Regions from separate parts of the Homo sapiens genome. Here region 1 is linked to region 2. A link means that fine-mapping ties the variant in region 2 to the expression of a gene that starts in the linked region. Tissue or cell type: whole blood. Region 2 holds a variant in brackets; the other region holds the start of a gene. All regions are shown on one strand. Distances are from middle to middle. Region 1 holds the start of EIF3G (eukaryotic translation initiation factor 3 subunit G). Region 2 overlaps DNMT1 (DNA methyltransferase 1).

Region 1 (5,369 bases), 66 kb before region 2:
CCACACCTCCCGGCAGCTTCTCCTTCTCGCCAGTAGACAGGCCCAGCTGCTCGGCCAGCTCCTTCTGCATGGGCCCCAGCGTATCCTTGTAGGGGCAGCGGGTGGTCCAGTGGTCGCCCTTGCAGATGCGGCAGGACACGATCTTCTGGCCCTTGAGTTTGTTCATAGGGTCCTCCTCCTCCTGGCAGTTCAGGTCCTGGCAGGGGCGGGTTGGGGGGAGCTCAGAGGCGGCTAAGGCACCCCCTTTGCCCCACCCCAGGATGCCAGCCCCACCTGATTGCCCCGCTTACCTCTTTGCTGGTGATGAACGTCATAGAGACATCGTCACTGACAGTGGTGGTGGCCACATTGGGTCCGGGGGGGTCAAACTCTGAGTTCCCGAACTTCTTCCAGTTCTGGGCTCAGGGAGGGATGGGGGACAGTTGAGGGCAGGGGCAGGCTGGGTTCCACAGTGGGGTGCCCTAGACCTACAACAGCCACCCCCAGAGTGTCTGGGCCTCAAACCCCATCTTCATCCTCCTCAAGCACTCCCTGAACAGTCCTGGCGACAGTTGTTTCCTGAGTACACGCCAGGCCTGAGCTCCAGGAGGCAGGGCAGCTGTCAGCCTCCGGGTCCAGGTGACAGCTACACAGCGTGGGGCCTGCGCAGTCTGGCGGACCAGCTCCCACCAGGGCGCAATACTCAGGGATGTGCAGGGGTCCACCTAGACCTCCGGGCCCTTGAGCTAGACAACCTGAGCCTCAGCTTCCTCCCTTATAAAACGGGAACCACAAAAGCTTCCTGCCTCCCTGGGCTCCTAAGGAGACTGAATGAGAAACACTTCGTGCAAGGTGCTTGGCATGGGGTATGTTACAATTAAGTGCACAGCAAGCTGTTCTAAGTATACTTATTGCTAACGCTTCTTCCAAAAACTGCTGCGACCACCTCCTGCTTCCGTTCCTGCAGGTTGACAGGCCAAGAGGAATAAGAATCTAACCGTGGCTGGGCGCAGTGGCTCCCTCCTGTAATCCCAGCACTTTGAGAGGCGAAGGTGGGAGATCTCTCAAGCCCAGGAGCTGGAGACCAGCCTGGGCAACATAGTGAAACCCCATCTCTACAAACAATTAAAATTAGCCGGTGTGGCAGTGCACACCTGTAATCTCAGCTACTCAGGAGGGTGGGGTGGGAGGATGGCTTGAGCCTGGGAGTTCAAGGCTGCAGTAAGCTATGATCGTGCCACTGTACTCCAGCCTGGGCAACAGAACTGGACACTGTGTCTTTAAAAAAATTAAAAGAATCTAATTTTTATTCGATATTTACAATCGATGTTATTTGATATTTATTAATATAATTTGATATCTATCATCGAACTTTGATTAGATATTTATCATCATTTATTTAGTTGCTATTTATCGACTGCTGTGCCTTGGACTTTTCAGGGCCCCAAGACAGTGCAAGCACCCCAGGCCTCAGTTCAGCTTCAACAAAATAGGTACAAAGAGGTAAGCCTGGCCGGGTGCGATGGCTCACACCTGTAATCCCAACACTTTGGGAGGCCTAGGTGCGCAGATCATGTGAGGTCAGGAGTTCGAGACCAGCCTGGCCAACATGGCAAAACCCCGTCTCTACTAAAAGTACAAAAATTAGCTGGCGTGGTGGCACATGCCTGTAACCCCAGCTACTCGGGAGGCTGAGGCAGGAGAATCACTTGAACCCAGGAGGCGGAGGTTGCAGTGAGTCGAGATCGTGCCACTGCACTTCAGCCTGGGGGACAGAGCAACACTCTGTCTCAAAAAAAAAAAAAAAAAAGAGTTAAGCCCCATCTCTAAACACAAAGTCCGGGAGCACGGTTTTCCAATTCCTCTAGGTTAGCCCTGGGGAAGAAGAGCCTCACCTTCCTCCTTGCGACAGCCTTTGAAGCCTTCCGGGTCTCAATCCTGAAGGTGCGGACAATCTGAGGATGGGAGGGGAGAAGGGTCAGGCTCCTGGGACCAAGGGATCTCCTTTATCAACCTCCTCAACACACCCCACCCCATTCCGGTCTATGGGCCCCCAAGCACAAGGGTCCCCACTCCCTGCACCCCCCACCCTCACCTTGAACTTCTTGCCATCCTCATCTATCTTGTACTCTGTCACTGTCTTTATGTTTCCGTTGATGACCTCCTTGGGAGGCGGCAGTGGAGCTGGCAGAAGGGGAAAAACAGAGAAAGACTGAGCCCTGGGTCATGGGGATCAGGAGCGGCAGGGCTGGAGGGAGAGGCAGCCCGGACACCGAGTGGCAGTCCTCACTCACCTCCCGGCAGTCCTCACTCACCTCCCGGCAGTAGCTCTGGCTCTGGGCTGGTGTCACCTGTGGCCAGAGGGATCCCCTTGAGGAGCTCGCTGGTGACACATTTGTCTGCAAAAGGCAGCGTAGGAAGGAGGAGTCAGCTCCAGGGGCAGGAGCTCCCCAGCTGCGATGGAAGGGCTTTTGGGATGACGCCTACAGCAAAAGCGGAGAAAGGCAGGCCAAGGGCAGAGGGCTGGCCAGGCAACGCACTGGGATGGCCCTGTGGGGACTCGGAGTGGCAAGGATGGGAGATCCCTCGTAGGAAGGTGGGTGCCAGGCCATGAAGCCAACCAGGCGCCAGTAGAGAAACAGGAGACGGGAGATTACAACTTCCTCCCTGGAGGGGAACAGCTGGGAGGCAGTGGCATGGGAGGAAGAGGGACCCGCCGGGGAACACCTGGAGTTGGCAACAGGCGGGTCCCAAGGAGGATGGCGCGGGGCAGGGGCAGACCGTGACGGGGTACACGGTGCCAGACTGGGAGATGGAAGCAGGCGGCAGTCACACGGCTTGGGCCTGGCCGCGAATACCCCGGGCGACCGTGTACACTTACCGTCCTCCCCCTCCTCCTCCACCTGGTCGGCCCAACTGGGCTTCGAACTGCGGAAACAAATGTGTGGGGAACGAAGATTAAGTCAGCCAGGCCCGGCTCCCGCAGCCTCGGCGTACCCAGGCCCCATAATACTTCCCAGAGCACCCCAACCGCTTCCCGTGCCCCTTTCCGCGATCGCCGACTCACTCAAAGTCTCCAGTAGGCATCGCAAAAAGTATTCTCCACGCAGCCCAAGCCCGGCCAGAGAGCGGAAGCGGGCGAAAACGAGACTTCCGGTGCCGCCGTCGCCGCCTAGAGGGGCCCAGCCGCGGCACCCACAGCGACACCTGCGGACGGAGGTGGAGGCGCACGCGGCTGTGTATGCTACTGGGCGCTGCTGGTACCAGAGTAGGGCCAGCGGGGGCAGAGGCTGATTTCAGGGCTGGTCCTATTAACCTTTAAAATTAAAATAGGCCAGGCGAGGTGGCTCAAGCCTGTAATCCTCGCACTTTGGGAGGTCGAGGCGGGCGGATCACCTGAGGTAAGGAGTTCGAGACCAGCTTGGCCAACGTGGCGAAACCCCGTCACTACTAAAAACACAAAAATTAACTGGGCGTGGTAGTGCGTGCCTGCAGTTCCAGCTACTCGGGAGGCTGAGGCAGGAGAATCGCTTGAACCCGGGAGGCGGAGGTTGCAGTGAGCCGAGATCGCGCCACTGCACTCCAGCCTGGCGACAGAGCGAGACACCGTCTCAAAAAAAAAAAAAAAAAAAAAATTAGCCAGGCGTGGTGGTGGGCACCTGTAATCCCAGCTACTCGGGAGGCTGAGGCGGGAGAATCGCTTGAACCCAGGAGGCGGAGGCTGCAGTGAGCCGAGATCGCACCACTGCACTCCAGCCTGGGGCTGCAGAGTGAGACTCCGTCTCAGAAAAATAAGTAAAATTAAAATAAATAATAATAATCATAAAGCTCACTTATTGAGTGCTTATTGTATATGAAGCATGGTGAGGAGGATATTACTTCCATTTTACAGCTGAAGAAACTGAGGCTCAGACTGGGTGCAGTGGCGCCTGCCTGTAATCCCGCACTTTGGGAGACCAAGGCGTGGGGATGGCTTGAGGCCAGGAGTTTGAGACAAGCCTGGGCAACATAGTGAGACCCCTGTCTCTAAAAAAGAAAAAAAGAAAAAGAAAGAAAAAAGAAACCAAAGTTCGGGGAAAACAATCCTTTTGCTTAAACTGTTCCTTGTCTTCTTTCCCGATCCCAATGATTCAGATGCCAAGTGGCCTCCCCTCAGCCACTCCCTCTTCTTTTCTTTGTAGCATTCTTGGCTTTCCGGTATAATTTTGTGCATTTACTTGTTTATTGCTCAGCTCCTTGCTCTAAGCACAACCGTCCTCAGTCGAAGTGATTCATGATGACTCCCCAGGGGAAAAAACTGGTCCTCAGGGAGGAAAAAAATCTTAGATATTGTGGTCTTCCAAAGCCAGCTCTATCAGACAGCATTTATCCCTAAGTATTTAGTTTCTGCCTTTAGGGAGATATTAAATGTAATTAAATTGAAATTAATTTAGTTGATGTAAATTCAATTTTAGGATAATTCGGGTTTTCTCCTAAGAAGGGTGATAATGAACAAAAAACGTTTGACAATGTCGGACGCAGTGGCTCACGCCTGTAATCCCAGCACTTTGAGAGGCCAAGATGGGCAGATCTCTTGAAGTCAGGAGTTCGAGACCAGCCTGGGCAATATGGCGAAACCCCGTCTTTACTAAAAATACAAAAATTAGCTGGGTGTGGTGGCCCGCGCCTGTAATCCCAGAACTTTGGGAGACTGAGGCAGAAGGATCACTTCAGCCCTGGAATTCGACCAGCCTGGGCAACACATAGTGAGACCCCCCATCTCTAAAAAACAACTTTTTTTTTTTTTTTTGAGATGGAGTCTCACTCTGTCGCCCAGGCTGGAGTGCAGCGGCGCAATCGCGGCTCACTGCAACCTCTGCCTTCCGGGTTCTAGTGATTCTCCTGCCTCAGCCTCCCGAGTAGCTGGGATTACAGATGACCACCACCACGCCGTGCTAATTTTTGTGTTTTTAGTAGACGGTTTAGTAGAGACGGGGGCCCACCTCGGCCTCCCAAGGTGCTGGGATTACAGGTGTGAGCCACTGCGCCCGGCCCTTAAAAAAATTTTTTTTTTTTAATCAGCTGGGCATAGTTCTGTGTGCCTGTAGTCCCAGATACTCAGGAGGCTGAGGTGGGAGAACAGCTTCAGCCCAGGAGGTTGAGCCATGATCATGCGACTGTACTTCAGCCTGGGTAACAGAGAGAGACCCTGTCTCAAAAACACACACACGCACACACACACACGCAACAAAACAAAAAATAACTTGTAAGGGAGAATGCCCTGAGAAAAATAAATAAGAAGACAGGAAAAAAAAGTTTATGCTTTTTTATCCTCTGAGTTGTGAGTGAGGAGGCCACTCAAGTGTTTGGAATATCACCAACTTTTCTTGTGGAAAAAATTATTCTAGAAG
Region 2 (5,369 bases):
TATATGTGTATATGTGTATATATACATATGTGTATATATATATACACACACACACAGCAGCTCTGTAACAGAGTATGTGTGTATATATGTATGTATATATGTGTATATATATACACACACATATATACATACATACATATACATTATACAGATAGATAGACAGACAGACAGACATGGAGTCTCGCTCTGTTGCCCAGGCTGGAGTGCAGTGGTGCGATCTCAGCTCACTGCAACCCTCACCTTCTGGGTTCAAGTGATTCTCTCACCTCAGCCTCCCAAGTAGCTGGGATTATAGGTGCCACCAGCCTCGTTAATTTTTTGTATTTTGAGTAGAGACAGGGTTTCACCATGTTGGTTAAGCTGGTCTTAGATTCCTGACCTCAAGTGATCCGCCTGCCTCAGTCTCCTGAAGTGCTAGGATTACAGGCATGAGTCACCATGTCTGGCATGCATATATATATACACGTATATATATACACGTATATGTGTGTATATATACATATATATGTGTATATATACGTATATATGTGTATACATACGTATATATGTATACATATGTGTGTGTATATATATATACACGTATATATACGTGTGTATATATATATATATTTTTTTTTTTTGAGATAGGGTTTTGCTCTTGTTGCCCAGGCTGGAGTGCAATGGTGTGATCTCAGCTCAACCTCCGACTCCCAGGTTCAAGCGATTCTCCTGGCTCAGCCTCCCGAGTAGCTGGGATTACAGGCATGCACCACCACACCCAGCTAATTTTATATTTTTAGCAGAGACAGGGTTTCTCCGTGTTGGTCAGGCTGGTTTCGAACTCCCGACCTCAGGCGATCCACCTGCCTCAGCCTCCCAAAGTGCTGGGATTACAGGCATGAGCCATCATGCCCAGCCTGTATATTTTAAAAGGTACCAGAGACCAGGCATGGTGGCTCACGCTTATAATCCCAGCACTTTGGGAGGCCAAGGCGAGCGGATCACTTGAGCCCAGGCGTTCAGACCAGCCTGGGAAACATGGCGAAACTCCATCTCTACAAAAATACAAAAATTAGTGGCTGGGCGTGGTGGCTGATGCCTGGAATCCCAACATACAGCAGCAGTTGGGTGGATTACCTGAGGGCCAAGGTGGGTGGATTACCTGAGGTCAAGGGTTTGAGACCAGCCTGGCCAACATGGCGAAACCCCATCTCTACTAAAAATACAAAAATTAGCCAGGCGTGGTGGTGGGTGGCTGTAATCCCAGCAACTTGGGAGGCTGAGGCAGGAGAATCACTTGAACCCGGGAGGCAGAGGTTGCAGTGAGCTGGTCACACCATTGCACTCTAGCCTGGGCAACAAGAGTGAAACTCTGTCTCAAAATAAAATAAAATAAAATAAAATAAAAATAACTGGGTTTGGTGGCATGTGCTTGTGGTCCCAGTTACTTGGGAGGCTGAGGAAGGAAGATCACCTGAGCCTGGGAGGTCGAGGCCACAGTGAGCCGTGATTGCATCACTGCACTCCAATCTAGGAGACAGAGTGAGACCCTGACTCAAAAAGATACCAGGAAAGAGGGGGCAGGTCATATAGTTGGGGCACTCCCGTAAGGGAAATGACCTACAGCTGGTCTTTCTCCAGTTGGGTCTGACAACAGCCCATAACAAGGTGTGCCACAGTATGGCCAGTGTCAGAATGAGTAGCCCAGGGCCACAGGACACTGTGGGGAACAGCCAGCTGATGTTCCTAAAGGCCTGGTGGGGGGTGGTGGCATTTTGAGGATGAAATGGGGGAGTCAAGCATCCAGGGAAGCAAGGGGTACCCACACAGAGGGCAGATAGAGGTGAAGTTAGAGGAGGTGGCTGGCGCCTCCCCGAATAACTCATTCTTCAGGATGTCTCTAGCTAGTCATTCCTAAATGTAGAACTGCCAGGAGTTTGCCTGGGAAATCGTGGTCTGATTTGATTACTGACAATTAGTAGCTTGACTCTTTCAGGGACAAAGAGGGAAAAAAATAAAAGAACAATAGCCGGTGCAGTGCCGCGGTGCTGCGTGCCTGTAACCCCAGCTACTCAGGAGGCTGTGGTGGGAGGATGGCTTGTGGGCAGGAGTTCGAGTCCAGCCTGGACAACATAGGGCGATCCTATCTCTTCAGAAAAAAATAAAGGAACAAGAAGAGAAGGTACCAAGGAAAGGGAGAGGAACACAGGCTGTTGTTCCCAGCCTGGGTGCTAACTACAGACTGCGGGGTGAGAACAGGCCTAACCAGCTGGGTAAGTGTCTGTTGGTGGAGAGAAGGTGCCCCAGGCAGGGACCAGGCCACTGCCATCTCTGGACCTTTCCACCTAGCACCCGCACAGACAGGTGCTCAGTTATCATTTGCCTGAAGGGCAGAAGTGGCTCCTCCAGGCTGGCCTTCCTAGAGGGTAAGTGCAGGCAGCAGCATGAGGAATGCTTTGCTGGACCCATGTCTTACAACAGCTGCTCTGGGTCATGCGGGCCCTGATTCCCCACCAGCGCCGC[T/A]CACATATGAGCACCTGCTGAATGCCAGGCCCTGCTCCAGGCAAAGAGCTAAGTGATTAGATGTAGGTGTCACTAGGCAGGGACTTCCTGACTTGCTGTGTGGTTAGGAAAGACCATTCTGTAGGGCCGGGCACGGTGGCTCACGCCTGTAATCCCAGCACTTTGGAAGGCTGAGGTGGGCGGATCATGAGGTCAGGAGATGGAGACCATCCTGGCTAACACAGTGAAACCCCGCCTCTACTAAAAATACAAAAAATTAGCCAGGCGTGGTGGTGGGCGCCTGTAGTCCCAGCTACTCAGGAGGCTGAGGCAGAAGAATGGCGTGAACCCGGGAGGTGAAGCTTGCAGTGAGCCAAGATCATGCCACTGCACTCCAGCCTGGGCAACAGAGCAAAACTCTGTCTCAAAAAAAAAAAAAAAAGACTGCTCTGTAGAAGAGACACTTAGCACCCTACAAACACAGTGGTAATATAGACTGTATATTATATATACTGTATCACTTGGACTCAAGGTGCTACAAGGCCAGGCAAGACGCAGTGGCTCATGCCTGTAATCCCAGCACCTTGGGAGGCCAAGGCAGGAGGATCACTTGAGGTCAGGAGTTTGAGACCAGCCTGGGCTACACTGAGAGATCCCATCTCTACAAAAAAAATGTAAAAATTAGCTGGGTGTGGTTAGTGTGCACCTGTGGTACCAGCTACTTGGGAGGCTGAGGTGGGAGGATCGCTTGAGCCTGGGAGGTTGAGGCTGCAGTGAGTTATGATGGTACCACTGCAATCCAGCCTGTTCAGCCTGGGCAACAGAACAAGACCCTGTCTCAAAAGAAAAAAAAAAAAAAAAAAAGATGCTTTGACATCAGGATTTCCAGGAGCACAAGGAACCTCTTCCAGGCAAAAGTCATTCTACCCTTGTAGCAACTGGGGTCCAAGGAGAGCCTTAAGTCAGGAGGGCTACAGAAACTGGTACTTCCAGCCAGAGGCACACACGCTGTGGTAATAGCGTTACACTTGACTTCTCAGTCACGCCGCTGAGAAAACTGGAAGGACATGGCTTCTACCTCGACCAAGCCAGCCAGTCCCCTGATCCCGAGGTTGCCTGGGGTGTGAAGGACAAGGTTCAACTGATTGCGGAGACCAAGGTGTCCTTGCAGAATGGGTCTGCTTTCTTTCAACCCCTCATATGAACTGGGATATTTAGCCTGGCAAAGAGAATAGAGAAACCTTCAAAACCCCTAGAATGTTTCATCCAGTAGAAACTGGATTTAACCTGCCTGGCCCCAGAGTGGCAGGTGGGATCCCAGGCAGGCAGTGAGGAGCTGGCGGGAGGGTAACTTTAGCGACATCCCTTCCCTGGTAAAACTGTGATGACACCGATCACACCTGCTGAAGCCAGGAGGGTCGCAGACAGCCGTGAAGGACGGAGCAGAGGACTCAGAATGCCGGCTTAGTGCCCAGCCTGAGACCCTATGATTCCTTCCTAGTGCTTCCCTCAGAGATGAACCCTCTGCAGAGGGGAGATAAGATATATATAAACAGCTGGCCAGGCACGGTGGCTCATGCCTGTAATCCCAGCACTTTGGGAGGCCGAGGCGGGCGGATCACCTGAGGTCAGGAGTTCGAGACCAGCCTGACCAACATGAAGAAACTTCGTCTTTACTAAAAATCCAGAATCAGCCAGGCATGGTGGCACATGCCTATAATCCCAGCTACTCAGGAGGCTGAGGCAGGAGAATCGCTTGAACCCGGGAGGTGGAGGCTGCGGTGAGCCAAGGTCACGTCATTGCACTCCAGCCTGGACAACAAGAGTGAAACTCCGTCTCAAAAAAAAAAAAAAAAAAAAAGATATATATAAACAACCACAGAGGAATAAGGCAAATACAGCTCACGCCTGCGGGATTCCCAAGAGAAAGGGTATAACAGCCTCAGGAAGAAGTTGACAGCTCTGTGTGAACCGGGCACAGGAAGCTGCTCAAACAGGGGCACCATTGAGAAGTGGCTGGTTCTGGAAACACACAAGAAACAAACGTGAGACTGGCCACATACAGGGAGGGAAAGGCACCTCCAGAGAGGTGGCTGGGGACAGTCGGAGGGAGGGCAAAAGCATCACACTTATCCATCTTGTTCCATAGTTAACAAACACCAAAGCAGTCAAGGGGAAGTAGAACCAATGACATCAGAGCCGTGTTAAGAAAACTAACCCAGCAGAGGTATCTAGTATAGATTGGATAGGAAGAAATTATAAAATGTTAGATTACTCTAACACCTCTACGCCAGAAATGCTCGTCTGAAATACAGCAGACCATGGCTGGGCGCAGTGGCTCATGCCTGTAATCTCTACACTCGGGAAGCCAGGACAGGAAGATCACTTGAGCCCAGGAATTCGAGACTAGCCTGGGCAACAGAGCGAGACCCTGTCTCTACAAGAAAGAATAATTAGCTGGCTGTGGTAGCATGCACCTATAGTCTTAGCTACTCGGGAGGCAGAGGCGGGAGGATCACTAGAGCTCAGGAATTTGTGACCAGCCTGGGCAATACAGTGAGACCCTGTCTCTACGAGAAAACAGTAATTAGCTGGGTATGACAGCACGCACCTGTACTCCTAGCTGCTCAGGAGGCCGAGGCGGAAGGATCACTAGAGCCCAGGAATTTGAGACCAGCCTGGGCAACACAGCGAGAACCTGTCTCTACAAAAAATAGTAATTAGCTGGGTGTGGTGGCATGCACCTATAGTCTTAGCTACTCAGGAGGCTGAGGCGGGAGGATCACTAGAGCCCAGGAATTCAAGACCAGCCTGAGCAACACAGCGAGACCCTGTCTCTACAAAAAATAGTAATTAGTAATTAGCTGGGTGTGCTAGCATGTGCCTAT

What was found. PIP is the estimated chance that this variant, and not a neighbour inherited with it, causes the effect. A credible set is the group of variants that fine-mapping cannot tell apart.
Region 1: it holds the start of EIF3G, and the variant in region 2 is the best candidate, but not a certain one, in a credible set for the expression of EIF3G in whole blood (INTERVAL, PIP 0.58).

Annotation. Positions count from the first base shown.
Region 1 is chr19:10,116,794-10,122,162 of GRCh38, forward strand. It overlaps EIF3G (eukaryotic translation initiation factor 3 subunit G), which reads right to left and starts at 3,106. Exons shown (of 11, transcript NM_003755.5): 1 at 3,047-3,106; 2 at 2,861-2,907; 3 at 2,295-2,378; 4 at 2,075-2,163; 5 at 1,875-1,934; 6 at 291-395; 7 at 7-196. The coding sequence starts at 3,066. RefSeq lists enhancers at 1,852-2,608, 2,609-3,364.
Region 2 is chr19:10,182,518-10,187,886 of GRCh38, forward strand. The region is part of intron 1 of DNMT1 (DNA methyltransferase 1); the gene reads right to left. Among named protein-coding and RNA genes, the nearest start is that of DNMT1, 9.8 kb to the right of the region's middle. RefSeq lists an enhancer at 1,418-1,918. The variant T/A (reference allele first, on the strand shown) is at 2,503.